2 separate regions of the Homo sapiens genome follow, and region 2 is linked to region 1. The links come from fine-mapping of genetic effects on gene expression. A gene starts in region 1. The other region holds a variant in brackets. All regions are shown on one strand. Distances are between the middles of the regions. Region 1 holds the start of FABP12 (fatty acid binding protein 12). Region 2 has its middle 59 kb from the start of LINC02839.

What was found. PIP is the estimated chance that this variant, and not a neighbour inherited with it, causes the effect.
Region 2: its variant is the best candidate, but not a certain one, in a credible set for the expression of FABP12 in testis (GTEx, PIP 0.63).

The regions. Positions count from the first base shown.
Region 1 is chr8:81,532,491-81,535,425 of GRCh38, forward strand. FABP12 (fatty acid binding protein 12) reads right to left here and starts at 1,377. Exons shown (of 5, transcript NM_001105281.6): 1 at 1,312-1,377. All of the region lies in intron 3 of LOC101927118 (a long non-coding RNA gene), which reads left to right.
Region 2 is chr8:82,218,088-82,221,022 of GRCh38, forward strand. No RefSeq gene overlaps it. Among named protein-coding and RNA genes, the nearest start is that of LINC02839, 59 kb to the left of the region's middle. The variant C/G (reference allele first, on the strand shown) is at 1,599.

The sequences.
Region 1 (2,935 bases):
ACACTACTGATTAAATGTTCCAGATATGGTTGGTAAAGATACTATAGTTTGGCCAGGTGCAGTGGTTCTTGCCTGTAATCCCAGCACTTTGGGAGGCCCAGGCGGGCAGATCATGAGGTCAGGAGTTCAAGATCAGCCGGGCCAATATGGTGAAACCCTGTCTCTACTAAAAATACAAAAATTAGCCAGGCATGGTGCAACGCACCTGTAGTCCCAGCTACTCGGGAGGCTGAGGCAGAAGAATCACTTGAACCCAGGAAGCAGAGGTTGCAGTGAGCCAAGATCGTGCCACTGCACTCCACTGCACTCCAGCCTGGGCAACAGAGCAAGACTCCGTATCAAAAAAGCAAAACAAAACAAAACAAAAAGCCTTAGTTCATTGGTTGGTTTTCCTGAGTAATTTGTACGACTGTGCTCATTCAACTTAATAGGCATGAGGCTGAAGCCAGGAAATGACCCAACATTGAGGGTAATCTGGGCACTGAAGGCACTACAATTCCCAGGATTTTTCAAGAAAATGTCGAATGTGCTGCCACATATGTCGGATGCACATGGATCCCCTCCCACAAGGAAAATCACGATTGAAGATCACCTCCTTGAAGATGTCGTATTGGGAGCGGTGTTTTTCCCTGTTGCTGACAGGTTAGACTTGCACAGGCGTCAGTACTGAGGTGTGAGACGGAGCCCATGTATGGCTTCTATCTCTGCACTGTGGCTGCTCCGTTCATGTGTCAGTCACATCAGCTCAGAGACTGCCTAATGTCAACTGGCCTAGTCATTTTGTCTACTCTGTTGTTCAGTGCCTCTTCTGTGATTGATGCTTTCTAGTGTTCATGAATACAAGAGCCAAAAATCTTCACATATTTTGCCCACTCCTATAGGTTCACACACATTCCTCTCCACCAAACATTCTTGTCTGCAATTTTTCAGTCCTCCTTCCAGGTCCCTGACCAGCTTTTCAGACGATTCGCTTCCACCCATGAGTATATATATGTTCCCATTCCAAGCCACTGTGTCCTCCACATGAAATAGGGAACAGGTGCATGACTCTGAGCTTTGTCCATTGATATGATTTTCCTTACCAGTTCCTCAAGTCCCCCCCACATCCCAAGTGTCATGAAACCACTGCCCATTTTTAACTTGCCTCCACACCCTGTGCTGACTGGTACATTAAACATGCTCAGGTTTTTTCTCCTCCTTTAGCTGGTCACGTGGGACCCACATACTGTCTGGGGCATGATCTGAAGGAGGGGTGCTGGTGCTGCAGTGGTGGGTGACATGGGGATCTGCACCACCTGCTCATGCAGTTACCTTAGGACTTCTGGTCTTGTTTAGGCTTGACCCCAGATGCACAATCTGATCTCACGATGGACTTCTGCTGGACATACCTGACTTGATGACTCTGTGGGTCTGACGGAACCTGGCTCATAATGGACACTTCCAGATACATTGTTACTTGATATCCTATAGTCAAGAATTCTGTCTCTATGGGGCCCCAGTAACACATTAGGCACTCTGTTTTAATAGGTGTATAAGTCTCTGTTACAGATGGCATGATCTTTCTTCACAACCCCAGACATTGGTGCTATGATGCTCACCCACACACATACATACACACACTCTCTCTCTCACACACATACACACACACCATACACATTATATTGCATATTTTCCTCTCACTAACACCTCCAGCACCGTGGAGTTTACCAATCACATGACCCAAGCATCAGGGCAGCTCATATCACAGCCCTTCCTTCCTGCAGACCCTTTCCTGCTCTGGGCTCCACTCAAAGCAGGGAGCCTTTCATGCCATCCAGTATATGGGCTGCAGCACATGCCTAAATGTGCAATATGTTGCCACCATAAGCCAAAGAGTCCCACAAGAATTTTGATAGAACAGGCAAAATGTAGCAATTTGTCTTTTGGAAAAGATTTCCTTATATGTCCCTGGTCAAGCTGGACCCCTAAAAACTTTACTAGAAGTTGCCTCAATCATTACCAACTTTAACTCTCATATTCTGTGTTGAATGTGTCTTACCAAGGCCTCCATTATACTAGCCACTTCTTGTTCATCCTGCCTGATAACATGATATTGTGCCAAGTGTCCAGACAGCCTAGATCTCATCTGATTATATTATGATAAAGAGTAGGAGTTAACATAGCCACAGGACTATGTAACAGGTGGCTCATGCCTGTAATCCCAGTACTTTGAGAGCCCAAGGTGGGAGGATCACCTGGGGTCAGGAGTTTGAGACCATCCTAGCCAACATGGCAAAACCCCGTCTCTACTAAAAATTACAAAAATTAGCTGGGTGTGGTGGTGGGCACCTGTAATCCCAGCTTCTCGGGAGGCTGAGGCAGGAGAATCACTTGAACCTGGGAGGTTGCAGTGAGCCGAGATCACACCACTGCACTCCAGCCTGGGCAACAGAGTGAGACTCCAACTCAAAAAATTAAAAAAAAAATGTAAACATGTGTCATTGTCTGTTCCATGCAAATGCAAATGGTTTCTGATCTTTCCTGATTGAGGTAGGAAAGAATGTGAAATGTGGTCTGACTGAACACCATGTACCTGACACTGTATTAATCTGCACTAACAAAGATAACACATCAAGCACAGTAGCCCATCATTGGGGTTATTAGTTGATTTTTCACTAGGCTAGAAATATTCTAAGATTCACTTGGATTTTGCAGTGATCAGACTCATGAATTAAATGGTGCTATGATATGAACCACCACCTTCTGCAGTCTTAAAGTCCTTTTGAGTAGCCCCAATTTCTGTCATTCCTCACTCCTCCCCTGCCACCGAATACAATGTTTTTTATTCACCATCTTATCAAGGGATGGAGAGAGGATAGCAGTGAAGAAGGTGGGAGTGTGGGGGTGCAGTTTCAGAAGCTTCCATTTTGCCTTCCCCACTATAATAATTCTTGTT
Region 2 (2,935 bases), 690 kb after region 1:
TATAATAGATCATTATTCAGCTCTTGGGTGCTTTGTTCTAACTTTTTTCACTCTTTTTTTTTTCCCTTTGTGTTTTAGTTGGAGTAACCTGTTGGCCTGAGTTCAATTTTAATGATTTTTTTCCCTCAATTGTGTTGTGTGTACTGTACTGAAAAGGGCATTTTTAATCTGTTTTGTGTTTTTTTATTTCTAAAATTTTGATTTGGTCTTTTTTTATAGTTTACATATCTGTGTTGAAGTTACCTGTGTAAATTTGCATTGTAACTTTTCCTTATTTAAATTACCTGTGTAATTTTGCATTGTAACATCACTATCTTTTAATAATCATAATAAAATAATGATTATTATGTAAAGGAGATGTATATGTATAAAGATATAGATACACATTCATATATGTAGGGATATATATGATAGGAATCATATATATCCCTATATTATAAGGATATATATCTTTATACTATATATATGTATAAAAGATAGGGATCATATCCATACCTGTATATAAGGGTATATAGAGAGTATAAATATATATAGTATAAATATATATAAATATATGAATGTATATCTATATCTTTCTACATATATATTTCCTTCACATAGTAATCATAATTATTTCATTATATTTATTTATATAGTATATATAAGCATATACTATAAACACAATTATTTATATATTTACGCATACATGTATATCTCCTTTAACATAATAATCATTGTTACTTTAAATTATCTTTCAGTTGTGAGTTCTATGTCATATCTGATTATGGTTGTGATTATTTCTTTGTCTCTTGAGCATATGTTTCTTCTTGCTTTTTTGGTATGACTCAATTTTGTTAAAGTCTGCTGTACTCTTTGTGTAGGACAACAGAGACTGCAGTAAGTGATTTTTATGCCTGGAAGTAAATACACCTTGTAGATCATATAGGCCTTTAGTTCGAGACTTTGAGCTAATCTAGTTGGGATGTGGGTTTGGGTTGAAGTTTGCTGTTGCTATAGTTACCATCAGTGTACCATGACCTTCACATCTCCGTAGTAATAAAATGTATTTTAGGTGGGGCTGGTGTAGGAATACCTTGTAATTAAGTTGGAACAATGTCTGTTCCACCTACAACATTAGGTTGCTCCTTTCCTCTGTACTTCAGAGAAAAAATTCTTTGCATGAGTTGTTCCTCGGCTAGTCCTCTACCAGAAGAATCCATTGTTAGGTTTTACTCAAGAATTGCCAGCTTGGCAGTGGTGGGCAGCAGGTGGGAGGTTTCTCTGTTGTTCACATTAAGCCTTAGTCTTAGGCATTCCATTCCATTCTCCTATCATTCCCTGACTGTAGATCTGGATGTTGTCTGTCTTTCTGCTCCTCCTTTCTGCTTTAAAATTTATTTTTCCTCTTTCATTTTTCTCAGCTGCAGTGAATCTTAATTAGTGTCTTAAGATGACAGTGTTTATGCCTCTCTCCCCTTCCCCCAAAATTAAGATGTTTTTACCATGGTAGAATTAGGGGAAAAAGGTCTGTATTCATTCCTTCTCAAGCTGTTATAAAGAACTGCTTGAGACTGTGTAATTTATAAAGAAAAGAGATTTAATGGACTCAGTTCTGCATT[C/G]CTGGGGAAGCCTCAGGAAACTTACAATCATAGCAGAAGGTGAAGGAGAAGCAAAGGCATGTAGAGAGTGTGTGTCAGCACAGGAAAAACTACCATTTATAAAACCATCAGATCTTGTGACAATTCACTATCATGAGAACAGCATGGGAGAAACCACTGCCATAATCCAATCACCTCCTGCCAGGTCTCTTTGTAAACACCTGGGGATTACAATTCAAGATGATATTTGGGTGCGGACACAAAGTCTAACCATATCAGGATCCATGCAAGTTGTGTGCTTCATCCATAGCAGCTGCTATTTCTCTCCTCAGGTCTCCTCCAGAACGTTCACTTTCTTAGTGCTCCCTCTCTCCTTTTGTATGACTGACCAAGGTGGGTTCTGAGGGAAAAAAAATGCAAGAGTGTGTGGGCTTCCTCTGTTTATTCATAATATTCTGTCAGCCCACACTTGACCTTCACCAATTTGTCAACCCTTGAAGCTAAACTCTTTACTCGTGTCTAGCTGCATCTATTTCAGAAAAGCAAATGCTCATGTCTTCTGTCTCCCTGAAGGTACAAGTCATTCCACTAATTTTTGCACGTTTATTGGTCTGTGCCTTCAGTTCTTCACTGGGCTTGAAAAATAATTAATTTTCAGATTGTTTGGCTATTTTTTATTGTAAGGGTGGGAGCTATAATCTTGCTACTCTTTACAGCTGTTCTACATCCTAGAAATTGATCAAGTCACCTCCTTTCCATCCTGGAGACATTCATCCAGTAATGAAAGAGAATGAATTACTGGTCTCTTGTTCAGTTCCTTCTTTCTTAATATGTTTGTCATAAGTTTGCGTGTATATCTTTATTTGTTTTTGAATTGATTTATATTTTGCATTTTTAACAAGAAACGTGTATATGTATATATGTAACTGCTTTTGTCTAAGTTTTACTTCTAGGTACTCCTAAATATATGCATGACATATATATTGTATATCTTATAGTATTTCACAAAGCTTCAATATCAGGCTACTTTCTGAAAAAGCAGTGAACTAAACAATAAGAAGTCAGAGAATAAACAATGGATTGCTTAATAATGAGTGAATATTCAGATGGAGTTTTTTTCTTTCCTCAGGTTCCCATATGGTAAGTTCCATAAGAGATTTTTAAGAGCTCTCTTCCACTAAAAAATAATGTAGATTTCTGTGTTCTATTGCTGTATTTATTCGTATTTATTCTTGCCATATATATTTTTTAAAGATATATATGTGTGTAAGTAGAAAATATAACTCTCCTTCCAGTTTTGGAGTATTTTTAGTTTTATCATTTTATAAGCATTACTCTTCCAATATAAGGAATATCTG